Linked DNA regions of Homo sapiens. The protein of the gene in region 1 interacts with the protein of each later gene in a biochemical or structural test. Each region holds a gene or a part of one and is shown in the gene's direction. Other genes may lie near its edges.

Region 1 (7,230 bases):
ATAATTCATCTCTGAAATGTTAGTTAATTAAATTGTATATATACAGGGGTCATATGATACATTAGGTTTAGAGAGAAATTTATTCCAACTCTCATCACCAGTTTGGCCAATCTTTACCTTCAAGTCTTCCACTGAGTTGAATGTGTCAAGTTCACTTGTATGTTCAACACATAGTTTCAATGCGTATTTTAAAATCAACCTAAGAGATATTATATCTGGTATTGTCAATAGACTATAATGTCATTTTATGTGGTACTGTGTTCTTATACCAATGAGGAAAAAACAAAATTTGGATGTTGTCTTATATCTGGGGATTATAAAAGAAAGCATTGAAAATACAGAATTCAGCTATGCTCTTAAAATTCCACATGAAACATTTGTAAATGAAAAACAAAAAAAGGAATTAGGAATGAAACTAAAAATAAATATTCATGGATAATATTTTACAGTTATCACTAATTAAAAAATATTTTTCCTTCTCTATTTCCTGTCTCTTCTAATGATAAGTAAATACCAACCCAAAAACTTCTTATGACACATGAATAGGCATTTTATTTTTACTTATTTTTGTATGTTCTAAGCCACTCCTCTCAATAACTCACACATGGACCACTTTTAATGTGGTCAGGGAAAATTTTTTCCCAAAGGACCAAGTACTAAAGCCAGACCAGTTAATGTTTCAGAGGTAATACGATTTGGTACCATTGGATGAATAAACCAATGTGGTTTGGATTAAAGTTTCATTTTTCTTTGCTTCCATTTTGGTGTGGATGAGGCCATCACAATTAATTTTTCAAGTTTAGCATTGCTTTGCCAACGGGATTTGTAGTACTCCATTTCTACATTGAATACTGGGAAATTTTAAGGAAAAGAGGCCAGGACAAGGAATCACTTCTAGATTAAACATTGCATTGACTTACTGTGTGACTCAGACAAACCACTTACCTCTTTGTCCTTCAGTTTCTCCATTGCTGAAAATTGCTTCGCCTCCCTGGTGCACAGCAATTTTGAAAGATGAAACATGAGTTTTGAAAAGAAACATGCCACATAATTTTGAGGTATTAGAGTCCTGCTTTTGTAATAGCAAAATGACCACCATTCATTAAATCCTTTGAATAGGATAATTCATTATTGCTATTGATGATATAATTATTATTGCCTTATTACTGTGTTATCATACATTTCAAGTTCTTAATAGCATTTTTTGTAGTTTATTATACAAAATATCTAGAGTGTCATTTTCAATATTTAGAGATTTGGGTATCTGTTATGAATTAATATAAAATGTTTAAATCAAATTTCTGCATATTTTTACCTCCTTTCATTGGGTTATTTTAAGAATTTAATTTAAAAAATTAAACATTGGACACTTACAGCTCTGTGAAATTATTAGAAGCCATGTAGAGAAAGGGTAAATTGTTCCTTTTGCTTGCAACTCCAAAATTACAGTCCATCTTATCTCCAGCTTCTTAATCCCCATGATATAGTCTTTGAATAAATTTTACCTCTCCAGTATGCCTTTAACTTAAACAGTGTATAAAATATTTTAGAAATGTACTTTCCACTTATTAAGCCTGAAATAAGCATTTTTTGTTTTTTTATTGACATATAAAAGGTACATATATTTGTGGTTTACAACATAATGATTTGACATATGTATACATCGTAGAGTGACTTAAGCTAATTAACATATGCATTGTCTCACATACTTATTTTTTATGGTGAGAACACTGAAAATCTATTCTCTGAGAAATTTTCACATGTACAATATATTGTTATTAACTGTAGTCATCATCATGTACAACAGATCTCTTGAATTTATTCTTTCCACCTAAAATTGTGTATGTAGCATCACTTCTGATTTTAATTATAAAACCTTTTTATGTTCAATACAATGACAATATTAAATTGTCTTCAGTGCTCCAACCCTATTTTTATTCCTTCTTTTTTGAACTGAGTTAGTTTAAAAAGTCCATTTTCCCTGCTCAGCCATTGGGTAAGATGGGGCTTTTGTTTTGGGAAGCTACAGCATAGGAAACTTGTCTAATGATTTAGAGACCCAGTGACCCACATGGATGAAAGAGGATTAACATCTTTGTTATTTCTCAACACAGGCTTCGAATTCACTCAAAGAAAAGCAGAAGTGTGAGACGCAGACGCTTAGGCAAGGTGTTCCTCTGCCTGGGCAGTATGGAGGCAGCATCCCGGCATCTTCCAGCCACCCTCATGTTACTTTAGAGGGAAAGCCACCCAACAGCAGCCACCAGGCTCTCCTGCAGCATTTATTATTGAAAGAACAAATGCGACAGCAAAAGCTTCTTGTAGCTGGTAATTCATTATGGCACCATTTGCAGGTCATTTTAGGGTTTTATTTTATTAGTGATCCAGGATAATGTCTCTTTTACTCAAGACCCTGATGGAGATCCACAGTGCTATACAAAAGTTTCCCTGATACCTGGTACTGTGGGAAAGGCTATCATCTTTATTTATTCCTTCAGATCCACTTGGGGTAGGAGGACTCACCTCATTTAACCTTTATTCATACCAGACTAGGCTGTGGTGAGTCGTATGGTCAGATGCGTACCTGTCCAATGCCTTGACATTTCTCTCTTCCCACACCTGACCTATTCTTCTGTTGTTTGCCTGGTAGCATCACTAATTCACTAATTTTCTTACAGTTTATACCATGTATCTGTTTTCTTTGGCTTCTTATCTTTTCTTAAAATTGTGTGTGTGTGTATGTGTGTGTGTGTGTGTGTGTGTATACACACATATACATGTATTTTTTTTTTCAGGTGGAGTTCCCTTACATCCTCAGTCTCCCTTGGCAACAAAAGAGAGAATTTCACCTGGCATTAGAGGTACCCACAAATTGCCCCGTCACAGACCCCTGAACCGAACCCAGTCTGCACCTTTGCCTCAGAGCACGTTGGCTCAGCTGGTCATTCAACAGCAACACCAGCAATTCTTGGAGAAGCAGAAGCAATACCAGCAGCAGATCCACATGAACAAAGTAAGCCTCCAAGCCAAGTCAAAATGTTCTAACCGCCAGTTTGGAAATTGGGTATCTCTTCACTGATATGGGTGTCTAAGAGGAATGTTGATGGGAGTCACAGCAAAAAGGATGTGATCATCCTAAGCCTGCTTTCTTGGCTCAAGGACACCATCACAATATCAGTGTTTTAACCACCATTATGTTCATAAGACATTTGTAGCAAAATTGAGATGATACATTCACAAGATCTTTTTATGATCAGGTATATATTTTGGTACACAAGCCCATACGGGCATATGTATATGGAGCCTCATTTTTTAGTGTTGCAGAAAAAGTTTGAGGCAGACTTGAATGTGGTGTGTTGACATGTCAAAAAGTTTGTACAGGTGATGACAGATAGGCCAAGATTAGCCAGTAAGGCACTTCTCAGCAACTTGTATGCATCTACGTTACATTTATTTTGCGAATGCCCCACTTCATTCCAATAAGCGTTTGGAGTAGTTTCTCGGAAACTTGTGATCATTTCTTCCTGGAAGTCTTAATGTTGCTAAAATAGACAGCGGATGTCTGTACCGTACCACATCCTTAGGAGCTCTCCTGCTGAGGCAACTACAAAGAAACAGTGATTGCAGCATAATATCAGACAGGCCAGTAAAGGATTTTCTATGAATTCGTAAGCAAAATGATATTAAAGAACCTGGTCTGGACAGTTTTTCCACTACTTTTTGCTGTGGTAGGCTTAAAAAAGCACCATCTTCTCATTCCTGGAAAATTCCTGGAAAATATTAAGGTCCTGAGTATTAAAATTCTATTCCCTTGCCTTTGTGCTGTATCATCTACAAGTTATGTTACAGAGGCATGAGAGGCATGATATTGCAAACTGATACTTTGTTTACTGATAAATGGATAGCTAAAACCTGGCTTAGTAATAACTTTGTTGTACTATGATGTAAGAAACAAACAAAACAAAACAAAATAAACTCTCATGGGCAGAGGCTTAATCATCTTTCTAACGGCAGTAGGGGAAAGGGATCTTCATCACTTGCTGGTTTTATGGCAAGTGTTGCTGGAGTTTTTCTCTTCTTTTGGCCTCCATCGTAACAAGGGCAGAGCCATGAAGGAAGCATGGATTGGATACCATGCTTCCGAACAGAAAGTTTTCCAGCCTAGCCCTTCGCTACTCTCAAAGTAGCAAAAGTATGTGTGGGATTGGGGTGCTAGAGATGGGGTGGCTGGCAGGGACAACTCTCTCTCTAACCTTTTAGTATGCATTGCAGACCCTTTCTGTGTCATTAGATAATGCCTATTTTATTGCTGTAGCACTTCTCTAAATTTAGCAAATATTTCGGTTTCATATCAAATTATTTTATATCAAATCAGTATCTTCAGGAGAGAGCCAATTTCCTTCTCTGACTAATGGCATAATACTCACTGACTTGTATGTGACTCTGCATATGTTTTCTATATTATGGTAGAGTTAGGTTTGTTTATTTGTTTTGTGGCCTTTCAGCACAACTTAAAATTATTAGGTATTCTTGAAAAATTGTCCACTGTTTAGTGCAAGAAATGTATGTGGGAGGGAAGATTAGGGATCGTATTTTTTTGCCATATAGTGTTTTGATCTAGAATTAGGTTTGTTTATAAAACCAGTATTAGATAGTAGATAGACTTTTCTGCTATGCTTGGTTCTATTTCCTAGAAACACATGGATGTATATATTTTACTATGGTAAAGTAGGTAAATTACTCACTTTGAAATTGTGATCCACAAATGGTTTCTATGAATACCTTTAAGAATATTTTGGAATACAGTTTTTTATTAACTAATTGCCACTGTTTCAGATTCAGATGGTGTGCTAATATCAGAATCTTTCCTTTTCAGTATCAAACTCGAGATTTTGACAGGCGAATGCTAACCTCAGTCACACTGGATAAAACTCAGATGAAAAGCAGGCATTTGCATTTTAGCAATGAGAAAAGCAAATCTTATCAGAGACCTTTTCCCATGTGGAGCTGATTCCTTTGAATCTGTTAAGAATTCTTCCCAGAATTAGAAACAAACCTATACTTTTAGGTACATGTTTGTACAGTGGTTTGATTATTAAATCTTGTCTTAATTAGGCAAAATGAAGACCAGAAAACTTCAAAGTCCAAAGCTGATCTTTATATGTTAACCTCTCTCAGCTTGGGTGTTTAGATGACTCAAGCAGGTCGCCAGTTGGCTTTTCTCCAAGGATGTATTCCATATGTTTCATCAAGTTGGCATATTCACGTTGGGTATTCTCCAGATTTTGAAAATATTTTACCTGCCCTCAGTTGTCTAAGGGGACAGAGAGGAAGCTTATTAAAGAAAATATCAAACCCATGTCCTATCCTGAAATATTCACAATAGAACGCTTAAGAAGTGAGTGGCTACTGTTCACCTGCTTCCGTGACGTGACAAGGATGTTTATTTCACATTGGGTCAGATTCATAACTTAGATGCCCAAAGCTAACATGTTTCTGTATAATATATTGCTGTATACTTGATTTAACCATTTAGAATGCCCATTAGTAAGAAATCACCACAGAAATTTTATCATTTTTCCCCATTTCCATGGATGAACCTTTATGAAACCCATTCATACTGAAGCGATGGTCCTTACTCTTGAGATACTTATAGCAGGAAATACAGGCACACATGAAGATGTTGACATACAAATGACATATTTAAATATATCTTCTTTTATTTCCTTTTTATGATTCTTTTTTGAGGAATTTAGAGAAACAAAAAATGAAGTGGGAACAAGAAAATATAAGTAGGATTATTTCTAAACCTGTATCAGATTAAATATGATGGGCTTCCTGGTATAAAATTTGTAGTAATGTGTTTGAATTACTAATAATCTTTAGAAGAATTAGAAACAAAGCTATATAGTTTTAGGGGCATGGGTGATGCAAGGATTGACTTATTAAATTTGAAAGAGTTTTTCATATCTTGCTATTATTTTAATGTGTTTATAAAATATTCATGTTCAGTGTAACTACATAATGTAACTGTTATTAATCATACAAAATAATTTACCTACTTGTTGCCTTATACTTTAATATCATATTTGGGATATTTGTGGGATAGTTGTGTGTTCTAAGATTATTTGCCTCTTACAGTTACGGTGTAAGTGTTCAAGGGCTTAGCAGAAATATCCCTGGAATGGGCTTGTATAGTATTTATACTGTTATATCTGCCAGTAAATAATGGGGAAAGTCAGAAAGGAGAGTGCTGGGCTGGAGAGGAAACCCTGTGAGAATGATTTATCTCTGCTCATGAGTTTGAATATTCTATTTTTCACTGAAACTGTTTTGAGAAGTTTAATCATAAAGAAATCAAGGCTTACAACATTTGATCTTTTGTTTTCTGAGACATTTTACAAATCAGAAATGCATTAAACAGGTTCTATTGCTAATATATGGTATTAATATTTTTGTGCAATGATGTCATTGCACATTCATTTATATCATTTTTCCCCAATACCATGGAAGAACCTTTTCAAAAAATCAAGAGTTTCTTTATACCAGCATCAAGGGAAGACTGATGCTTTTGCCAGTACACCTTGCTTTTCTGATTGGAGGAAAAAAGAGTTTCTAAAGTAGAACTTCCCTCAAATACAAAATATCAAACAAAAAGTAATAAGGTATTGGTAATTTTCTCCTGGGCCCATTTCAAGTTTAAATATTACCACAGGATTTTTTTTCTGGTGAAATAAAACTGTAATTGATTAAAACAGAATACGTAACAGTTGTTTAGACATACTGATGATTTTAAAGAAGTATTCTAAGCACTGCCTAAAAAATAAAAGGGCAAATCTCTAGTCACTTCACTATTTGAATGATATATAGAAAATTTTCAAAATCTCTTTAGGCATTTTTGTTGTGAGGTAATTTGACATAGATCTCTGCCATGCCCCATCCCCTTGACAACATTATTCTTTATTTCTCTGTTATAGTATTAATAGAATTGCACTGATTCATGCCTAGCAGTTTCTATTTTAACTAGAATATTAATATCTTTATTAATATCTGTTTTTCATATTCATTCCATTAAATCCATAAGAGCAGGAATTTTAAGAAAATTCATACTTTGTTTAGTAGTTACTTTAATGAATTATTAATCTATGTATGGATGCGTTAAACAAATCATTAAATACTGTGTGCAGACACAGTTTTAAGCACTAAGAAAACAACCTTCAGTGTCCTCAT
Region 2 (7,331 bases), on another chromosome or scaffold:
GCTGGGCATGGTGACGCGCACCTATGGTCCCAGGTACTCAGGAGGCTAAGGTAGGAGAATCTCTTGAGCCTGGGAGGTTGAGGCTACAGTGAGCTGAGATTGCACCACTGCACTCCAGCCTGGGTGGTAGAGTGAGACCCTGTCTCAAAAACAAAACAAAACAAATCAACAACAACAACAACAACAACAACAATAAAGAGTTTCAAGCCTGGTGTGGTGGCTCATACCTGTCTGTAATCCCAGAACTTTGGGAGGCCAAGGCAAGAGGATCACATGAGTTCAGGAATTCGAGATCAGCCTATGCAACAGACTTAGACCTCATCTCTGCTAAAAATAAAAAATTAGCCAGGTGGAGTGGCAGGCACCTGTAGTCTCAGCTACTCAGGAGGCTGAGCTGGGAGGACCCCTTGAGGCCAGGAGGTCAAAGGTGCAGTGAGCTGTGATTGCACCACTGCACTCCCACCTGGGCAACAGAGTGAGACCCTGTCTCAAAAAAAAAGAGTTTTATTTAACCAAAATTTTAGTTAACTAAAATTTTAGTAAAACAAGAGGAATAAATTTTCAGATCTGTTGTACAGCAGAGTGACTATAGTCAACAATAATGTACTGTATATCTTAGAACAACTAAGAGAGTAAATTTCAAATGTCTCACTACAAAAATGATGTGAGGTCTCAGTTATGTTAATTTGATTTAATTACTCCACATTGTATACATATATCAAAATATCACAATATTCTCCATAAATATGTACAATTATAACTGCCAATAAAAATAACATTAATAAAAATAAATTTTCAAAAAGCTTAAAAAGGAAACTAACACCTAACGGATGAAAATGATTGGTATTAACCTGTTTCTGGTTGCCATTCTTTTTAATTGCTGAGTAATATTCTATTAGGCAAATGCAGTTGTCCCTCAGTACTCTCAGGGGGATTGGTTCCAGGAACAACCTCTCCATACCAAAAGCAGTGGATGCTCAAGTCCCTTATATAAAATGGCATAGTGTTCCATCCTCCTATTATTTTAAATCATCTATAAATTATTTATAATAACTAGTACAAAGTAAATGCTATGTAAGCAGTTGTTATAGTGTACTTCTATTTGTATTTATTTATCTCTGTGTGTTATCTTTTATTCTTTTTCCCCTAATATTTTTGATCTTCAGTTTTTGAATCTACAGATGTGGAACCCATGAACATGGAGGGCTGACTGTATATCATAATTATCTGCTGTCTAGTTGATATATTTGGAGTTGTTCCTGCTTTTGCTTATTATAAGCAAAGCTAGCATAAACATTTATGTCCAACTTTTTTTTGGTAGACGTAGGTTTCCATTGTCTTGGGTGAATCCTTATAAATAGGAGTGTTGAGCCATACTTTGGGTGTAGGTTTATAATTATAAAAACTACCAAAATTTCCCAAGGTAGTTTTAACATTTTGTACTCCTACCAATATATGTAGGAGAGTTCTGGTTTTCCATGTCCTTGTCAATATGTGATGATGTTAGTCTTTTTAATTTTAGTCACTTTTGTGGGCATGAAATGGTATCTCACTTTGGTTTTAATTTGTATATTTCTGCTGACTAATGATATATAATACTTTTTCATATGCTTATTGGCCATTTATAAATTTTCCTTTGTCAAATGCCTGTCAGAGTCTTTTGCCCATTAAACAAAATTGTTTGTTCATGTTTATTATTGAATTGTAGGACATGTTTTCTATAATCTAGGATTTGTGTGTATCAGAATATTTTCAGCTATCAAGAGTATTCAGATATATGTATCATCTAGACTCTGGCTTGCCTATTCATTTTCTTAATGGTGACTTAGGATAAGTGGAAGCTTTTAATTTTGATGAAGTCTCTTTTTTTTTTTTATGGTAAGTGCTTTCTGTATCCTAAGAAATCTTTGCCTACTGCAAGGTCAGAAAGCCATCTTTAAAAAAAGTTATATTATATTTTAATAGTGTTATATATTTTAGCTTTTATGTTGAGGTGTACAATTCATCTTGAATAAATATTTGTGTTCACAATGTAAGGTAAGAGATGGCGTTCCTTTTTTCCTCATTCATGTTACGTTACTGGACATTCACTTTTAAAAAATTGTTTTATTTTATTTGTAATTGACAATAATTGTATATATTTATGGGGTATAATGTGATGTTTTGATACATGTATACATTGTAGAATGATCAAATCAGGCTCATTATCTGTCACCTCAAATATTTATCATTTCTTTGTAGTAAGAACTTTTGAAATCCTCTCTTTTAGCTATTTTGAAATAGGCAACATTATTATTAACTATAGTCACTGTGCTGTGCAATAGTACACCAGAGCTTATTTCTCCTTTCTAACTGAAACTTTGTACCTATTAACCAATGTCCCCCCTTTCCCTGTCCACCTTTCCGTCCTCCAGCCACTGGTAACCACCATTCTACTTTCTAGTTTTACAAGTTTGTCCTTTTTAAAATTTCACATATAAGTGAGATTATATGGTATTTGTCTCACTGTGCCTGGCTTATTTCACTTAGCATAATGTCCTCTAGGTTCATCTATGTTGTTGCAAATGACAGAATTTCCTGTTCTTATAAGTCTGAATAGTATTCCAGCATGTGTGTGTGTGTGTGTATGTGTGTTTGTGTGTGGTATGCATAATATATATACATTCATCTGTTGATGGACACTTAAGTTGTTTCCATGGCTATTAGAATAGTGCTGCAATAAATATGGGAATGCAGACATCTCTTCGACAAACTGATTTAATTTCCATGGGATTGGGGAACTGACTTTTGATGTCCAAACTTAGTATATAATACCTCAAAAGCCAGAATGCCAATTATTTTGTGTTATAAAGTTGTTTGGCTATCAATCCATATTTTTGCATGAGGTAGTTATCTTGCAGGTAGGCCCATTGAGAAGACTAGAAGATAGTCTTGATTGATTCTTGTTGAAATTGAAATTAGAGTAAAGGGACATCCAAACACTTATCCAATGAACTACAATGACATACAACTCACTCAAGCCTTCCTTTTTCTAAATTTTCTCCCCAAATAAAACAACAGCAGCAACAACAAAGACAACAAAAACGTATGCGTTTCTTACAGCTTTATGATGTGTTTCAGTGTCTACAGTACTGCTGAGTTTGCATCTCTTGCATGTTGTATCTTTCTGGTAACATATGGAAGAAGCTTCATATTCATATAAGTATGCTAGTTCTAAAACATAATGTGGAATCATTTACAACTCAGCACTACTTGGTAGCAATAAACAGAAACCCACCTCAAAAGAGTGTAAGCAAAAAAGGAATTGAATTAGATTACGTAATTTGAGAAGTCCAAAGGCTGGAGTTGGTTTAAGCGAAATTTGTATTGAAAATTTTTCTTACATAAAAAAGGTAAAACAAATTTGGTAAACCTAATTTTTTTTTATAGTGCAAGTAGTCAACTGTTGTCATTCTAAGAAACTATTATTTATGGATAGTAAAACTGTTTGGAGACTTTAAAAATACCCTATAACAGTTAAAGGCAGAGCAAATTACTGAAATAAAATTGCGATATTTGCCCCAAATAGTAACAGTACAATTTTCATCAGTTCTCTAGAAAATTATCTGCAATTAAAAAAAAAAGAATTCTGATGTGTTAACTCAAATTAATCAGTATTTTCTTTGTACACTCAGATTGCAACCTAAGTATTAGTCTGTTGAATTTGGTTTAGTGGATATTTATTCAGGATTTTTACAAAAACAAGGAAACAGAGAAGAGGAATAGTGCTGTGCAGATGACCTCGGGGTTCAGGCGACACTCAAATGCCTGCTTCTCCTCTGAGGTTATTACCATCTCTTACTTGTTTGACGTTTAGAGATACTACAAGAGATAGTTGAAAAGCAGAGGTTGCATTTCCAGTGGTGTTTTGCTCTGCTGGTATTTGCTCCTCCGTGCTGCTGTGCAAAGGGCCAGAACTGCATCGAATGGATCTTTTCTTCAGGTTGTGCAGGCTGGCTGCCTTGATGTCGTAGTTGCTGATGTTGGCTGCCGACGAACCTTATTCCTTTACATTTGCCTGGTCCTCATTTCACCGGAAAACACAGTAGCTGTAGCTGCACATAGACGCTTCCTCTTTCTGTTTCCCCCTCATCCCCCTCCCTAGACCTCTCTGGGCTTTGACGTCATGTGTGCTCCTTTCGGTTGCCATAGCAACCCCATTCCCCAAGCCCTCTGTCCGTCTCCTCTGGTAGGTTCCACAATGGTACAGGCAGCATCACGCTGCACAATGGTTTCCAGGCAGTGAAAGAGGGTGATTCAGCAAGCCACTCTTCTTCTATTTTCTTTAACCTCCCCTTCACTTTTTATTTTTATGGGGGTGGGTGGTGCTTGCTATATGCTTACCTTTTTCTTTTCTTTTTTCATTTTTACAAATTTCCTTTTTTGTCCTCACCCCTCAATTCCTAGGGGCTTGAGTGAGTTTAAGATTGGGTTTTCTTGGAAATCACCTGTCCATCGTTAATTTTAAACAATCTCCATATCTCCAAAGAATCTCTTCCATGTTAGTCTGGAATGTGGTTAATGAAAAACAAGTAGGGAGGATTTCTGGGGCAAACACTGCCGGATCAGGATCGTAGTTCTCAGGCACGGAATGGTAGGTGGCTCTTTGCTCGTTCTGGGTTCTAACCTGTTTTTGGAGGGTGGGGTGATGTCTATTGATTGCTCCTGGTGGGGCGGGAGAGGGAGTATGGAAGAGACGAGAGAGGTGGGGTGGAAAGCAGGTTAATCAAGTGAACTAGCTTTGAAGCAAGAAGCTACCAGTTTTTCCCTCTGTGCAGAACATCTCTTTCCAGACTTGGGCGTGTTGAAACCTTTCCATTTGGAGTGAGGGGTAGCAGAGGGAGGGAGGGAGCATTCTTATTGTGACCAGGGGTTTTTAGACCAATGCAGGGCTACAGAAGGGAAGGGAGAGAGAGAGAAACACACACACACACACACACACACACACACACACACACACACAGAGAGAGAGAGAGAGAGAGAGAGAGGAAAAAAAAAACACCAAACAGCTGTGCTTGTTAGAAGTGCTGACCTTAGTTCCATATCTGAAAAATGTGATGGGTTCCATAAAACATTAAAAATAATGTCTTTTAGTATGTATTTATGTTTACTTTTGTGAGAAGTATAATTTAAATATTTTAAGATGTATTTTACTAAGGAACAGTATTTATATATATATTAGATATAAAACTATTGGCGTTACTCTTGCAGAGCAACTCTAGGCTAAATCTGAGCCGGGGAGAGGAACACAGAACAGGGGTCAGGTTAGAGATAAGAGGAAACATTGGCACTGCAGTCAAATAGGTAAGGGGTCCCTTTAAGAAAGTGATCTCCTAGTCACAGCAGTCAGCTTTCTTTTTTTCATGGCAAGATTCCCAGGTATTCTGTGCTGGGATACTGTGTCCCCTGCAAATGTCAGAGCTCTTTTGAAAAAAAAATCAGAAATAAGTATGGCAGTATATTTGTTAGAATCTATGTATTTGTGCCTTCAACAAAATAAATGTAATTTACTGGAAAATCTGTAAGTAAATCAGGCTATAGATATTACAAGAAAACTATCTATCCATATATTTTTCTCACCCTCCCCAAACATTTAAATCTAGAGACCTAGTCTCTGCTTTTACCCCCTTAAACAGATAACTTCCCAGGGTACTGCAATTTAGCCACAGAAAAAGAATGGCTTATGCCACAGCAGTAGGCTCTGAAGCAATCACAAGGTTGTTTACATGGGCTGCCTTTGGTGCAGAGCCTGACAGTGTCTGTACAGCAGCCCTGCCTGCTTCTGGCCATGTTGATGATAACTTTTATGAACAAACTGCAAGGAAGCAGGCTAAGTCATATGGGATAGACTACAGTTCAGGTGGAAGGAAAACGAGTGTAAGTGCACCAGGCATTGCCAGCACAACATCCAATATCTCCTTCTATCCCTCATCGGCTAGTTGTCGGACCCTGGAAGATAACACAGAATGCTTATCAACATATTTAAAATAGTTGCAGTAAGGACCATTTCTCTCAGAGAAGCTTCTGTGAATTTTCTACTTTAGGTGAGCATATATGTTACAAATATATAACAAATAAATATATAAGTATATCACAAGCTTCTGACTCCACTTCAGAACCATTAGATTTTAGGGGCTGGATGCTTTGGATGTAGCGGTTTGGCTGCCTCTGGTATGTATTTCCTTCTCTACCTTGATCACACTCTTAAAATTGACATAAAGTATTGGATTAGCTTATTTTCTTATGTGGAGCAAACTGGGTTTTCTCTCCCCTACAATGGGACTAGAAAATCAGATGACAAAGGTGGTGTGACCTTAAATATTAGAGAGTCTTCATGCTTCCTCATTTGCCTGTCATTCCTCTGCTGTTGCAAAGTGTCTTTAATTTGAGGGGCTCCTGTTCTTAAAAAATCCTCACAGTTTCAGTAAAACGATTCTGGATAGTGAGGCAGTAAGAAATTATATGTAGAGTGGGAAAATCAGCTGCCTCCAGCTTCCTGCCTGCTAGCCCCAGAACAGCATCTGCTGTTGAGAGGAGTGTGTTTGCCATGCTGGAAGGGGATGTTTATGAACAGATCCCAGAGGGGCTGAGTGTGTTTTTGCTGTCATTGTCTGGTATGTCTGCAGCTATTAGTATTTAATGGTTTCATAGTACATGGTCTATATATTCTAAGGTTAGAATGAACTGATAATTTATTGTCAATGCTATAAAATGTAGATATTTTAAATTTATAGGAAAATTAATAAGATTTTCCTTGTTAGGATATCCTACAGGAACATCATAAGCAAAACAAATTTGCCCAACCTAAGTAATCTAGAAAAACCTCCCATGTTTAAAGGCATAAATATATTTTTAAGGTTTTATTGTGGTTTCATGTAAATGAATCTGTTTCTTTGGATGTAAGCCTAGTTATAAATTCTTTTTATACTGATACTAAAAGCTAAAGACAAATTGGGTATTTACTTGTTTGTTAAATATGGGGATAGATGTTCTCCCTTCATGCTCTAGTTCTGGCCTCAGGTCACATTTGTAGCCAAAGGACTTTCAGTGGAATTGGTGTGTTCAAATCGAATGATTGCTTGGTTGCTTATCAGAATAAAGGACTCAAAGCAAGAGAGACTTCCTTCAATTAGAATGAGAAGCAAACACATTGTTGTCTTAAATTCTTTCTTCATTGCCCTTTCTATTTCCTCTTACAGTCTCTTTTAAGCTTTTGGTTGGACATTGCAACAATCATGCAGAAAGAGGCACGGAAGTGTCCAGTAGTGACAAGAATGGAGTACAATGCTCTA
Region 3 (7,230 bases), on another chromosome or scaffold:
GTGGTGGCAGGTGCCTATAATCCCAGCTAGTCAGGAGACTGAGGCAGGAGAATTTCTTGAACCCAGGAAGCGGAGGTTGCAGTGAGCTGAGATAGTGCCATTGCACTCCAGCCTGAGCAACAAGATCGAGACTTCGTCTCAAAAAAAAAAAAAAAAAAAAGAGATTGAAGCATTAAAGGCTGACTGGAAGTACTGAGTGAATGGGTAAATTGTTAAAGAATGGGTGTCTCTTGGACCACAGGCAGCCACAGGTGTCACCTTCTGTAGGTTTTTTCTCTGGGCACCATTTAATTTCTCTGGAAAAGGCCCCTTCAGTCCCTTGGTGGAGGGATGTAAGCCTGGCTGCTGGGGTACAGGGCTGTGCTTCTCATGTGGCAGAGCGCAAACTCACCAGGCAGCCCTGTTGCAGGCAGGCCTCACCGTGCCTTCCCTGTTGGTACCCACAGGACTGTGCATGCGGCGCCTGTGGCCCTGCACCTGGAAGCTGGGCATCAGTTTCTCTGCGTGAAGGGCCAGCAGGAGTGAGGAAGGAGTGGAGCCTCACTTCTGGGATGGAGATGGGGATCTGGGACATCTACTACGTACTTGGACTTTCAATAAAATGAAAACTTCTCCAAGTGCTACCCTTGCCTCTTCTGCCTCCATAGCACCTGCATTTCACTTGCTGAGCCTTTCCTGGGTGTCGTGGCCATTTATAGAGGTTGGCATTTCCTTCGCTCAGCTAGGGCATTTGGGCGGCCCTGCAGCTTCCTGTCCCTGTAGCGTGGGGCTTTTCGTGGGCGGCTTCCGCATGCCACGGTGGGTTAGACAGGCGAGGGACTGGCCGGGAGGAGGCCTGTGCGAGAAGGAAGGGGGAGCAGCCAGAGGAGGCAGCAAATGCTAGCTGAACGTAGTGCAGTCCTGGCCCCTCAGAGGCCTGGTCCAGACTGCGGTGCAGCTCTGAGGGCCTCCGGTGTCACACAGGAACGGGCCTGCCTCAGCATCCCTGCCCGGTCGGCCCCTGGCTGACGGCTCTGTGGGAGGTGTGCCCTGGCAGGGACAGAGGGTAGGTGCAGACACCACACTGGGCCATCTGTCACTCTCACTCCTGTGGCGGGAGACCAAGGAGTGCATTTCCGTGGACCCCACAGTCCACCCTGGCCCCCTCAGCTCTACTTCTCCACATAAGTTGGGAATGGCTTTCCTGTGGCGCCCATGGTTCTCTCTTCCTCAGGGGAAATCTGGAAGACAGAGGTTAGTGGGACACCCTGTAGTCCCTGTCACTGTGGTCTCTCTGCTGGCTCTTTCCCTACCCTTTCCTGTTATTCATACCCTCAGCTCTCACATTGGCAGGCCTCTGTGGCTTGCCTGGCCTGTGTCCCAGGCCTTCATTCCTGAGCCGTCTGTGTCTGGTGGCTCTCAGTGGGCCACAGGGTCCCAGGCCACCCAGTGGCCGTCTCCCCAGTCCTCAGTGTGTAGCCGGAGCGGAGGCGCTTGGCAGGTGGAGTAACGCCCACACGAGTTCCTTGGCCTGTGAGTAAGAGTCGTCACAGTGGGAAGGCCAAATGGAAACCTGAAACTGCCCCCAAGATAGTAAATCAAAAACAAGATCACACCCTGCAGGGCCCGGGGTGGGTGGAGGAGACTAGGGCCACCATGGAAGCCTCAGGGGAGCAGAGACAGTGGTATCTTGCATCCCAGTCTAACTCGTTAGTCCAGCCCTTGAAGAAGCTGCATGGATTCTGGAGAATGACCCCAGACGGCCACAGGCTTACGGCACTGGCAGTCCTGGCCGCAGCTGCTGTGCATGTCAAGGTGCAGTTGTTGCTGGAGCAGATTAATAAGGCCTCAGGTCTGGCATGTTGATGGGGCAAATGCATCCTCCACACTGATTAGAAGAGAGGCCCAGACAGCGCCCACACTGCTGCAGGCTGGACAGCAATGTTCTCTCACAGCCTTGCTCTAAGCCTTTGCTAACGTTCCCACCCTCCCATAACATGGCCGCAAGAGACCTGGCCCAGACTTCACTTATGCCCTGACCCCTGACCCCTGACCCCACGAACCCTGCAAGTGGAGGAGCCCTGAGAGTGTTTGGGGTCTTCGGGTTTCAGTGTCTACTTAGAGCTGTGTCCATTCATCCTCAAGAGTGCCTGGCTGTTCTTACCCGGTGGGTGGCCACAGGTACCTGTGGGGAAGGACCGGCAAGGCCAGACAGTGGACACCTGTCATGATGTGCTCCTTCCTGGGATACCTCTCAAGCAGTGGGTCTGGATCCCAGAGTTGAGCGGGCAGTGGGGGAGGTCAGCACCTGCCCCACTCATGCTGCGGGTGCTGTGGGTACCCTCACTGCTGCCCACAGGGTAGCGTTGGGTTCCAGGCATTTTGGGAGCCAAGCCCCGATCCAGGCGTCACTTGGATCTGTACTTGGCATTTGTCTTCTTTGTTCTGAGTGATTTTCAAGACTTGAAGGGGCAGAACTGTCTTTCCTCTGCTGTCTTGAAATTGAAGTGAGGTGTTGGGAAGCTGCCTCAGGTTGTATTTCGGGGGTGACTAGAGAGGGTCCCAGGGTGCGGGGAGAGCACCTCCTTAGCCACCTCCCCATTGGCCACACAGAGCACCCACACAAGCTTGGGACTTTATCACCACAGTCTTCCAGCAGACGGCAGTAAAGTGTGCTTTTCCTGTTAAATTAGTATGTGATGACAGTTTTTTGACAGATGGCAGTGTCTTCAGATGAGCGTGTTTCTGGCGCACTGGGGTTCACAGAGCTGGCAGGCAGCCCGTGGAGATGGTTCCACTGCTGCGTCTGTCCTTGGTAGAACCAGGCTGTCCTTGTCTTCCTTGCTCCTGCGGCCGTGCTGTTAGTTCTGGGTGGGCTGGGCTTCAGGGCCTGCTGGCTGGGGAAGTGTGTGCATTTCACACCTCAGAAATCAGCCTCCTGGAGAGAAAGTGCCCACTGCACACCCTCTGTGGCCTGAGGAAGCGCCTGTTTCTGCTTCTCCCGCCAGCACCGAGTCTGCTTGCTTTCCATCGCTGCCAAGTGATAGACTAAAAATGGGCATTCATTTTGGGTTTTTAAAGAAGATTTTTGTGAGATTGAGCATTATTTTATCTGTTAGTAATTTATGTTCTAAAATGCCTGTTCTTGTCATACTCTTTGATTTTAAAAAAGGAAACAAGAAGCGAATTCGTTCATTTGGTCTTAGCTCCCTGACTTGGTCCTCACAGCGGAGCGTCCCTGGTTGAATGTGGGCTGCTTCTCCCTGGCTTTCCTTCATGCAGGGAGGCAGCCCGGTTTCTTCCTCTCAGGCCTTTCTGGGAACCGGGGGTGTCTGCACAGTACTCTAAGGTGGAATGGAGGGGCTGGGGGCCTCTTTTTGGGGCCAGGTAGAGATTGTGACTGCATTTTTAAACATTATATGTTTATCATTTAAATCTTACAGAATCTAGGAAGCCTAGAAACAGGTCACTTAGCAGCATGGCAGTGTAATTGTACCTGTTGTCAATGTCGAAATGGCTTCCTGCTTGCCCTGATGACAGCCCCACAGCCTTCACTGAGGCATGCCGCCTGCAACCCCCCTTGTGGCCCATCAGTTGGGGTGTCTTACAGGCAGGTGCTAGGCAGTGCTACTGAACCTGCAACTTCCTGGGTAAAGTATCCTCATGCCTTACGCCATGTCAGTGGCTTGGCAGTTTGACATTGCAGGTGCACTACTCTTGTGAAAAGAATGGGTGTGGGTTGTTTACAAGTCACAGTTTCTCAAGTGAGTTTGCAGGCCGAAGTCCCCAGGCAAAAGTCAAATTCCTAAGGCCTGAGGAAGGGGCTAGGGTGGAGGATCAGCAGGAAGAAAATCCCTTAGTTATGAGGGAAAAGGTTGCAGAAGTTGTGTTAAGGCTTTGCAAGTCAGGTGGAATATGATGCATGTCTTCATTCTGCAGACACTTCCCAAGTGTCTGCTCGCGCCAGGCGTGCTTCTGAGTGCTGAGAGCTCACACAGAGTCAGCACTGGGGAGGGAAGAGAGGTGGCAACCAGAACATGAGCAGGTGAGTTTTTGTGCCACGTACAGATGGAGACAGCAGCACCAGTGCTGGCGTGTCTTTGTGGCGAAGGTGAGAAGATTGGAGGTGGATGATCATGGAATTGCTCTTCCAAGGAGAGAAAGAGCCATGGGAAGATTCCAGGATCAGACGATTCTAGACCTGTGCTGTCCAGTATGGCAGCCACTAACCACAGGAGGCTGTGGAGCACTCAGGATGTGGCCGTGCTGCAGTTGTAAAATACATACTGGACTTCAAAGGCTCAGTACTAAAAAGAGAATGTAAAATATCTCAGTATTTTTCTTATGTTGATTACATTTTGAAATGATAATATTATGGATATATTGGGTTAAAAAAATATACTGTATGATTAAAATTAATTTCACCTATTTCTGCATGCTGTTGAGCATGGCTAGTAGAAAATGTAAATTATACACATCGTTCGCATTATATGACATTGTCTGTGGGACAGCACTGCCCTGGACTGACAGACAGCATGAGGACCTTAGCAAGAGAGAGTCAGAGTATTGGGGAACTCAAGTCCAGGCGTGGAGAGCAGGAGGGGGCCGTGTGTGCTGGACTGACAGCATGAGGACCTTAGCAAGAGAGAGTCAGAGTATTGGGGAACTCAAGTCCAGGCGTGGAGAGCGGGAGGGGGGCATGTGTGCTGGACGTGTAGATGCATGGATGGAGGGTAGATAGGACAGCCTGAGGGCCTGCGAGACCACAGAAAGGGCAAATGGGGGCCATGAAGGTTTCCACTGGGGGTAAGGGGCACCATCTGACGGCTTTAGGCTGATTTGTTTTAGTTTCAATTTGAGAGTAAGATTTTCCAAAGTTGTTCCCAAATCTCAGAGTTCAGTTCACTCCCTACACTCTCACACTGGCTTCACGACCCTCACGGATGTGAAGTAGTTTATTTAGCATGCTTCATTCATTTTACTAATTTAAGCCATTTCTTTCCTAGGATTTGAAGCCTAGCAACATTGTTGTGAAATCAGACTGCACCCTGAAGATCCTTGACTTTGGCCTGGCCCGGACAGCGTGCACTAACTTCATGATGACCCCTTACGTGGTGACACGGTACTACCGGGCGCCCGAAGTCATCCTGGGTATGGGCTACAAAGAGAACGGTGAGTATAGCCGGGGCTGGAAGAGGCTGGGATGTTTAGAAATTGCTCTAGCGGTGGTCTCGAGTTTTTTCTCTTTCCTTTGAACCATATGATATATACTGTGGGGACTGTTACACCCAGAATATAGCATGATCCAGAGATAAGAAATAATTAATTGTGTTTTTCCATTGGTTAAAATCATTCTCTTTTAAAAATTCACTTTTAAAATTGTTATTTTTGAACTTTTTAATCAGAGTTAAGCTGTCTATAGCCAAGTGTGCAAATCCTGAGTGTGCAGCTCAGCTGAGGTGAGCACACCCACAGCAGCAGCAGCTCTGGCCTCCCCATGGCCCCTCCTCGCAGCCCACGAGGCTGGCCAATCTCCTGATCTCCAGTACCATGGATCAGCTTTATTTGTTGGTCTGCATATTGTTTTTTTGAATTTGATGTAAATAGAATAACACATGTTTTCATGTAAAATTGGTGTCTTTTTACATCAAAACTTAGCTTATTCTAGCAATATCAGAGCTCTTTGAAACTTGGCTTTTAGCAAATTTGTTGAAAATAACGAAATCACGCTTACTTATTTTTAAAAAGACTGAAAGTTTGCCCGGGTCATCTGAAATGAGTTTTGCTACAGGTTCATCTTGCTGCGTTGTAGCTTGTGTTCCCACCCTGAGGGGCACAGCTTCATGTGCTTCCTGTGGAGGGGAGAGAAAACTTGATCCCCTGTTCACTTCTCCCCTCGGCCCGCCAGCAGGGCACTTAGAGGCCTCTGCTGTCTGTCTGAGGCCCCACAGATGAGGGTGGGCACCGTGGAAGTCTGGGCCCCTCTAGCAGGGCCTCACCTGCAGTCCTGCAAGCCAGCCAGCCTGTGCCGCCAGTGAGTGCTGCTGCCTTTCTGACGGGGCAGTCTAGAAAATGATCGCTCAGGAGGTGTGGTATCAACAACGCACAGAGGCTCCCGCCGGCAAGCTAGTGACGTGTACCGGGTTTGTCCTGGGAGGGGGTTTGAAGAAAAAAGATGGGGGACTCTAGCTGGTTTTTAATCCCCTGGTGTTTGGTAGTGGACATCTGGTCTGTCGGGTGCATCATGGCAGAAATGGTCCTCCATAAAGTCCTGTTCCCGGGAAGAGACTGTATCCTTCACAGGGGACCCGGTACTTGGCCATGGAGGCTGGGGTGGGCGTGTGGCCCTGAAAAGCTTTGTGTTCACAGGCACTTCTTGTTTCTGGTTTTTTGTTTGTTTGTTTGTTTGTTTTAAGCTATAAAGTATTGGACTCTTTGGCACTAAAACCCCAGATTGCTACAAACCGAAGGCTAAAATAGAGGTCAGCAATCATTCATATTGTGTAAAATGTCACCCTTAGCTAGCAATTTATTTTTCCATATTTGTGTGTTTAGTGCACTGTTAGAATTCCTTTTCCTCACTTTTGTTTTGTTCATGGCACTTCATAATTTTATCATTTCATTTTATTTTCAGTTGATATCTGGTCAGTGGGTTGCATCATGGGAGAGCTGGTGAAAGGTTGTGTGATATTCCAAGGCACTGACCGTATCCTTCCCCGCGACCTTGGCCCCGCCATGCTTTCTTAATGCCTCAGGCAGCATGACCACCTGCTTACACGAGCGCTCACGAGGACAAAGTCGTAAAATCCACTCCAGACTGTGTTCTAAGGGGGGCTTTACTGTATTTGTTAATTAGTGTCACAAGCCAAGTGGTTCAATTTCATTCTTTATTTTTAACTTGACTACCTGTGATGACTTTGAGACTTAGAGTTCAGTTAAACCGATTATATTAGCTCTTAATTTTGCCAAAAATAGCTGGACACATAGAAGAAATTATTTACTCTTTGATAAGTATATTCTGATATTTAAATGAAAATACTGTATTATTTAGTTTATTCCGTTAATTTAACTAGGAAAGATGCTATCTAAATTTAATAGGCTAGTGTGCTTGTGTGCTTTAATTAAGTACTATTTTGTTAGTTACTGGTATGCATTGAAATATTTTCCCCCAAAGTAAGAACTGAAGCACATTACAAAGGACCTAAGTGAAAGAGATTAAAATGAAAATTTTGTGAGGAACAATATGTTAAA
Region 4 (7,161 bases), on another chromosome or scaffold:
CCTTCTGCCCTCCCAGTTGGTCCGTGTCCCCTTCCAGGCTTGAGACCAGATCCTGGGGGCAGTTCACTGCCTGCTTGGAGCCCCCCAGTGCCGGCTTGGTTGGGGCAGGGGAGGCGGTGCTGTCAGGGTGGCTCCAGGGCCTGGTTGCCAGTGGGGGGCTGGCATAGACCCTTCCCACCAGACCTGGTCCCCAACACCTGCCCCTGCCCTGCAGAAACCTGAGTGGGAACCCGTTTGAGTGTGACTGTGGCCTGGCGTGGCTGCCGCGATGGGCGGAGGAGCAGCAGGTGCGGGTGGTGCAGCCCGAGGCAGCCACGTGTGCTGGGCCTGGCTCCCTGGCTGGCCAGCCTCTGCTTGGCATCCCCTTGCTGGACAGTGGCTGTGGTGAGTGCCGGTGGGTGGGGCCAGCTCTGTCCTTCCCAGCCAGGTGGGACCTGGGCCCTGCAGACACTGGGCAGGGCTCAGGAAGGCCTCTCTGGGGGGGGCCTCCGGGCCAAGGGAACAGCATGGGAGCCTGTGAGTGCGGCGGGCGGATGTGGGGGCGTGGGGTGGAGCCAGGAGGAGCAGAACCCGGGGTCCAGTGGCTGCCTCTTCTAGGTGAGGAGTATGTCGCCTGCCTCCCTGACAACAGCTCAGGCACCGTGGCAGCAGTGTCCTTTTCAGCTGCCCACGAAGGCCTGCTTCAGCCAGAGGCCTGCAGCGCCTTCTGCTTCTCCACCGGCCAGGGCCTCGCAGCCCTCTCGGAGCAGGGCTGGTGCCTGTGTGGGGCGGCCCAGCCCTCCAGTGCCTCCTTTGCCTGCCTGTCCCTCTGCTCCGGCCCCCCGCCACCTCCTGCCCCCACCTGTAGGGGCCCCACCCTCCTCCAGCACGTCTTCCCTGCCTCCCCAGGGGCCACCCTGGTGGGGCCCCACGGACCTCTGGCCTCTGGCCAGCTAGCAGCCTTCCACATCGCTGCCCCGCTCCCTGTCACTGCCACACGCTGGGACTTCGGAGACGGCTCCGCCGAGGTGGATGCCGCTGGGCCGGCTGCCTCGCATCGCTATGTGCTGCCTGGGCGCTATCACGTGACGGCCGTGCTGGCCCTGGGGGCCGGCTCAGCCCTGCTGGGGACAGACGTGCAGGTGGAAGCGGCACCTGCCGCCCTGGAGCTCGTGTGCCCGTCCTCGGTGCAGAGTGACGAGAGCCTCGACCTCAGCATCCAGAACCGCGGTGGTTCAGGCCTGGAGGCCGCCTACAGCATCGTGGCCCTGGGCGAGGAGCCGGCCCGAGGTGAGTGTCTGCTGCCCACTCCCCTTCCTCCCCAGGGCCATCCAGATGGGGCAGAGCCTGGTACCCCCGTCTTGGGCCCACACTGACCGTTGACACCCTCGTTCCCACCGGTCTCCAGCGGTGCACCCGCTCTGCCCCTCGGACACGGAGATCTTCCCTGGCAACGGGCACTGCTACCGCCTGGTGGTGGAGAAGGCGGCCTGGCTGCAGGCGCAGGAGCAGTGTCAGGCCTGGGCCGGGGCCGCCCTGGCAATGGTGGACAGTCCCGCCGTGCAGCGCTTCCTGGTCTCCCGGGTCACCAGGTGCCTGCCCCCACCCCCCGAGGGGCCATAGGTTGGGAGATCTCTGAAGCACTGGGGCAGAGCCTGCGGCTGGGGAGTCTCAGGAGGAAGGAGGTGGGAGCTGGGCCGGCCCTGGTGAGCAGGTGGCGCCGGCCGGTGGGGCCGTTCCTGTCAGCTCTGCAGATGCAGAGGTGGACATGAGCTGGGGGCAGCCTCCGGACACTCCTGGGCACGCCATACGGGAGGTGGCCTGCACGGGGATCCCTGCCGGTACCCACAGGCCCCGTGGGTGGGTGCTGCTGTGAGCCTGGGCTGGTGGGCCCTGGTCTCCGGGCTCTGAGCCTCAGTTTCCCCATCTGGAAAGGGGGACAGTGATGGGGCTCCCAGCGGGCTGCTGTGAGGGTGGGAGGATGGAGGAGTGCCCTGAGCCCCCTGCCATCCCACACCCGCCCCCAGGAGCCTAGACGTGTGGATCGGCTTCTCGACTGTGCAGGGGGTGGAGGTGGGCCCAGCGCCGCAGGGCGAGGCCTTCAGCCTGGAGAGCTGCCAGAACTGGCTGCCCGGGGAGCCACACCCAGCCACAGCCGAGCACTGCGTCCGGCTCGGGCCCACCGGGTGGTGTAACACCGACCTGTGCTCAGCGCCGCACAGCTACGTCTGCGAGCTGCAGCCCGGAGGTGTGCGGGGGGCCAGGCAGGGGCCTGAGACGCTGGCTGTGGTTAGGGGCCTGCCGAGCGCCCGCGGTGGAGCCTGGGCTGAGGAGGAGGGGCTGGTGGGGGGGTTTTCGGGCGGCTCGGTCCCCAGTCTGTTCGTCCTGGTGTCCTGGGCCCTGGCCCGGCGCCTCACTGTGCACTCGCCACCCCAGGCCCAGTGCAGGATGCCGAGAACCTCCTCGTGGGAGCGCCCAGTGGGGACCTGCAGGGACCCCTGACGCCTCTGGCACAGCAGGACGGCCTCTCAGCCCCGCACGAGCCCGTGGAGGTAGTCGGCCCCCCACGTTCTACAACCTGCCCTCCTGCCTGCCCCTGGAGGCCTTGCCTGCCCTGCCCACTGTGGGTCTCGCCAAAAAACTTGGGGGCCTTAATGTTGCTTGTGCCCAGTGAAGATGGTTGGGAAAATCCAGAGTGCAGAGAGGAAAGCGTTTACTCACATTACCTCCAGGCCTTTTCTCTGAGCGTGTGTGAGTTATTCCTGAAAGGCAGGTCAGGGGTCCTGCCCCCCATGGACAGTTTCCACCGGAGTCTTCCTCTCGAGCGACAGGAGCCAGGCCTGTGGGGGTCTGATGGCTCGCTCTCCTTCCCTCCCCTCTTCCTGGGAAGTTCGGGTAGGGGGAGTCTGGGCTTCAGGCTGGGATGGGGTCTGTGGAGCTGAGGCGGCCCCCTGCCCACCAGGTCATGGTATTCCCGGGCCTGCGTCTGAGCCGTGAAGCCTTCCTCACCACGGCCGAATTTGGGACCCAGGAGCTCCGGCGGCCCGCCCAGCTGCGGCTGCAGGTGTACCGGCTCCTCAGCACAGCAGGTGGGACTCTGGGTGGTGGGTGGTGGGTGGTGGGCGCCGCAGGACTCGGGGTGGCCTCTCTGAGCTTTCACGTCTGCTGGTCCTGTGGCCACCAGAGTGGTTCCCAGTCTTAGGTGGACAGAGCAGGGGTTCCAGAGACACCAGCTCATTCCAGGTGTCCTGGGGGTGGATTGGGTGGGGCCTGCCTGGGGGCCGGCCTGGGTCAGTCGGCTGGCCGGAGACGGACGCAGCACTGGGCTGGGAGTGCTGCCCAGGTGGGGAGACCTGTCCTCACAGCAAGGCCAGGATTGCTGGTGCAGGCAGTTGGGCATCTCTGACGGTGGCCTGTGGGCAAATCAGGGCCCCAACACCCTCCCCTCCTCACAGGGACCCCGGAGAACGGCAGCGAGCCTGAGAGCAGGTCCCCGGACAACAGGACCCAGCTGGCCCCCGCGTGCATGCCAGGGGGACGCTGGTGCCCTGGAGCCAACATCTGCTTGCCGCTGGACGCCTCCTGCCACCCCCAGGCCTGCGCCAATGGCTGCACGTCAGGGCCAGGGCTACCCGGGGCCCCCTATGCGCTATGGAGAGAGTTCCTCTTCTCCGTTCCCGCGGGGCCCCCCGCGCAGTACTCGGTGTGTGGCCCTGACCTGGGTCTGTTCCCTGCATCTCCTCAGGCCACCTTCCTGTCTGCTGCCCAGGGTCTGGGTCTGTGCACCAGACACACCCAGCCTGCAGGCCCCTCCCACGTCCTTGCCACCTCTGACCTCCGACCTCTGCAGTGCCCTCGGCCCTCTCCCAGTGGGAGAAGCTCTCGCCTGGGCCCTTGGCACGAGCTGTGCCTCCTCTTCCTCTCTCCCAGCACAGCTGCTCCTTCCTGTCTGCCAGGTCTTGGCCTGTGTCCTCTCCCCGTGTGTCCCCCGGTCTGCAACTGTCCTGCCTGTCCTTGTCACGAGCACTGTGGGGAGGCTCCTTGAGGTGTGGCTGACGAAGCGGGGAGCCCTGCGTGTCCACCCTCATCCGTCGTGCGGGGGTCCACGGGCCATGACCGTGAGGACGTGATGCAGCCCTGCCTCCCTCTCCACAGGTCACCCTCCACGGCCAGGATGTCCTCATGCTCCCTGGTGACCTCGTTGGCTTGCAGCACGACGCTGGCCCTGGCGCCCTCCTGCACTGCTCGCCGGCTCCCGGCCACCCTGGTCCCCGGGCCCCGTACCTCTCCGCCAACGCCTCGTCATGGCTGCCCCACTTGCCAGCCCAGCTGGAGGGCACTTGGGCCTGCCCTGCCTGTGCCCTGCGGCTGCTTGCAGCCACGGAACAGCTCACCGTGCTGCTGGGCTTGAGGCCCAACCCTGGACTGCGGCTGCCTGGGCGCTATGAGGTCCGGGCAGAGGTGGGCAATGGCGTGTCCAGGCACAACCTCTCCTGCAGCTTTGACGTGGTCTCCCCAGTGGCTGGGCTGCGGGTCATCTACCCTGCCCCCCGCGACGGCCGCCTCTACGTGCCCACCAACGGCTCAGCCTTGGTGCTCCAGGTGGACTCTGGTGCCAACGCCACGGCCACGGCTCGCTGGCCTGGGGGCAGTGTCAGCGCCCGCTTTGAGAATGTCTGCCCTGCCCTGGTGGCCACCTTCGTGCCCGGCTGCCCCTGGGAGACCAACGATACCCTGTTCTCAGTGGTAGCACTGCCGTGGCTCAGTGAGGGGGAGCACGTGGTGGACGTGGTGGTGGAAAACAGCGCCAGCCGGGCCAACCTCAGCCTGCGGGTGACGGCGGAGGAGCCCATCTGTGGCCTCCGCGCCACGCCCAGCCCCGAGGCCCGTGTACTGCAGGGAGTCCTAGTGGTGAGTATGGCCGAGGCTCCACCACCAGCCCCCAGGCAGGTGCCTGCAGACAGGGTGCTCACACAGGGCGTGAGGCCTGGCTTCCCAGTGAGGGCAGCAGCCCAGTTACTGGGGACGTCGGCCCCGGGCAGGTCCTGCTGGCTGGCTCCTCGGGCTACCTGGTGGGCTTTAAATTCCTGGAAAGTCACGGCTCTGACAGTGGCTCCGCTAACTCATTCCACTGTCTCATTTCACAAAATGAATTTAAAACTCTGCTCCCTGACCTCACACGAGCCCCCGTGAGTCTCTCACGCCCTCTGCTGTGTTCTCGCCTGGCTAAAGCGAGTGGCTTTTGAGGTGGAGTCTGAACCCCTGATGGGAAACTGCGGGCTGCCCGCGGTGCCACCATGCTGGGTACATGGGGGACAGGGCTGTCTCCATCTTGCGGGTACCTGCCTCTTCACCAGGGGCCTTGGGAGGGGCCATCAGAAATGGCGTGACCTGTGCAGCCTGTCCTGGGTTCTGTAAGCCAGTGTAGGTGCCTCCCCTCACTGCTCCGAGCTCTCTGGGTGAGGAGCTGGGGCAAGAGCGCCGGGAGGGTCTGAGAAGACTCAGAGAGAGGTGGACTCTTTGTAGCTGGTACTAGGTTTGCTTTACAGATGGGGAAACTGAGGCACAGAGAGGTTGAGGCATTAGTAGTACTACATGGCTGGCTGGAGAGCCGGACAGTGAGTGTCCCAGCCCGGGCTTGGCTCCCATGGCATGCAGAGCCCCGGGCACCTCCTCTCCTCTGTGCCCCGCGTGGGACTCTCCAGCCCGACGGGAGGTGTGTCCAGGAGGCGACAGGCTAAGGGCAGAGTCCTCCACAGAGCCCAGGCTGACACCATTCCCCCCGCAGAGGTACAGCCCCGTGGTGGAGGCCGGCTCGGACATGGTCTTCCGGTGGACCATCAACGACAAGCAGTCCCTGACCTTCCAGAACGTGGTCTTCAATGTCATTTATCAGAGCGCGGCGGTCTTCAAGCTCTCAGTAGGTGGGCGGGGGTGGGGAGGGGAGGGGATGGGGCGGGGCAGGGCGGGGGCGGGCTCCACCTTCACCTCTGCCTTCTGCTCTGCTTCATGCTGCCCGAGGACGCTGCCATGGCTGTGGGTGAGTGGAGGGAGGGACGCCAATCAGGGCCAGGCCTCTCACCTGCCACCTGGGCTCACTGACGCCTGTCCCTGCAGCTGACGGCCTCCAACCACGTGAGCAACGTCACCGTGAACTACAACGTAACCGTGGAGCGGATGAACAGGATGCAGGGTCTGCAGGTCTCCACAGTGCCGGCCGTGCTGTCCCCCAATGCCACGCTAGCACTGACGGCGGGCGTGCTGGTGGACTCGGCCGTGGAGGTGGCCTTCCTGTGAGTGACTCGGGGGCCGGTTTGGGGTGGGCACCAGGCTCTTGTCCCAGCCCCAGCCTCAGCCGAGGGACCCCCACATCACGGGGTTGCTTTTCTGAGCCTCGGTTTCCCTGTCTGTTGGGAGGTAACTGGGTGCACAGGAGCCCTGAGGCTGCACGGGAGCCGGGAGAGGCCTCAGCACAGCCGGGTGGGCCCTGAATGGAGGCCCGGGGCGTGACTGCAGAGTGGAGCCTCGGCTGGGTCCCAAGCACCCCCTGCCCCGCCACCGCCCACCCCTGTCCCGGTTCACTCACTGCGTCCCACCGCCCCGGCAGGTGGACCTTTGGGGATGGGGAGCAGGCCCTCCACCAGTTCCAGCCTCCGTACAACGAGTCCTTCCCGGTTCCAGACCCCTCGGTGGCCCAGGTGCTGGTGGAGCACAATGTCATGCACACCTACGCTGCCCCAGGTGAGGGATGAGGGGGTGAGGGGGCCACTGCCTTTCAGGCTCTGAGCACGGGGTCCCCCCAGCTCCCCAGTCAAGCTGCCCCCCTTCCTCCCCAACAGCCCTCACTGTGACCTCACCTGGGCTGATGGCTTAGGCCCCTACTGGGGTGAGGGAGGGGCCAGGCGTGGGGGGAGTGGACAGGGAAGCTGGGCCCCTGAACTGCGCCCCCCGCCCTCCCCGGGCCTGGCTCTTGCTGCTCTGCTGCCCCGAGTGCAGCTGCACTTGGAGGCGGTGCCGTCCTCGCCAGGCAGCCCTCAGTGCTGCTACACCTGTGCTCCGTCCCGCACGTGGCTTGGGAGCCTGGGACCCTTAAGGCTGGGCCGCAGGTGCAGCCGTTCACCCCGGGCTCCTCAGGCGGGGGGCTTCTGCCGAGCGGGTGGGGAGCAGGTGGGGGTGCCGCGG

Evidence for each region.
Region 2: the proteins of HDAC9 (region 1) and MAPK10 form a complex in vitro, tested with the Homo sapiens proteins (one study listed by BioGRID).
Region 3: the proteins of HDAC9 (region 1) and MAPK9 form a complex in vitro, tested with the Homo sapiens proteins (one study listed by BioGRID).
Region 4: the proteins of HDAC9 (region 1) and PKD1 form a complex in vitro, tested with the Homo sapiens proteins (2 studies listed by BioGRID, with this or other methods).

Annotation. Positions count from the first base shown.
Region 1 is NC_000007.14:18,645,671-18,652,900, forward strand, and holds part of HDAC9 (histone deacetylase 9), read left to right. Parts: intron 1-2,114; coding exon 2,115-2,328; intron 2,329-2,795; coding exon 2,796-3,013; intron 3,014-7,230. UniProt on the Homo sapiens protein: Responsible for the deacetylation of lysine residues on the N-terminal part of the core histones (H2A, H2B, H3 and H4).
Region 2 is NC_000004.12:86,356,960-86,364,290, reverse strand, and holds the start of MAPK10 (mitogen-activated protein kinase 10), read left to right. Parts: upstream 1-4,237; 5' UTR 4,238-4,633; intron 4,634-7,331. UniProt on the Homo sapiens protein: Serine/threonine-protein kinase involved in various processes such as neuronal proliferation, differentiation, migration and programmed cell death.
Region 3 is NC_000005.10:180,246,894-180,254,123, reverse strand, and holds part of MAPK9 (mitogen-activated protein kinase 9), read left to right. Parts: intron 1-4,985; coding exon 4,986-5,151; intron 5,152-6,197; coding exon of another isoform or gene 6,198-6,269; intron 6,270-6,395; coding exon of another isoform or gene 6,396-6,424; exon of another isoform or gene 6,425-6,461; intron 6,462-6,613; coding exon 6,614-6,685; coding exon of another isoform or gene 6,686-6,726; exon of another isoform or gene 6,727-7,230. UniProt on the Homo sapiens protein: Serine/threonine-protein kinase involved in various processes such as cell proliferation, differentiation, migration, transformation and programmed cell death.
Region 4 is NC_000016.10:2,111,899-2,119,059, reverse strand, and holds part of PKD1 (polycystin-1 isoform 1 precursor), read left to right. Parts: intron 1-214; coding exon 215-384; intron 385-597; coding exon 598-1,269; intron 1,270-1,387; coding exon 1,388-1,571; intron 1,572-2,006; coding exon 2,007-2,227; intron 2,228-2,415; coding exon 2,416-2,531; intron 2,532-2,941; coding exon 2,942-3,068; intron 3,069-3,434; coding exon 3,435-3,682; intron 3,683-3,909; coding exon of another isoform or gene 3,910-4,025; intron 4,026-4,134; coding exon 4,135-4,890; intron 4,891-5,767; coding exon 5,768-5,899; exon of another isoform or gene 5,900-5,903; intron 5,904-5,994; coding exon of another isoform or gene 5,995-6,019; intron 6,020-6,096; coding exon 6,097-6,272; intron 6,273-6,586; coding exon 6,587-6,720; intron 6,721-7,161. UniProt on the Homo sapiens protein: Component of a heteromeric calcium-permeable ion channel formed by PKD1 and PKD2 that is activated by interaction between PKD1 and a Wnt family member, such as WNT3A and WNT9B. Both PKD1 and PKD2 are required for channel activity.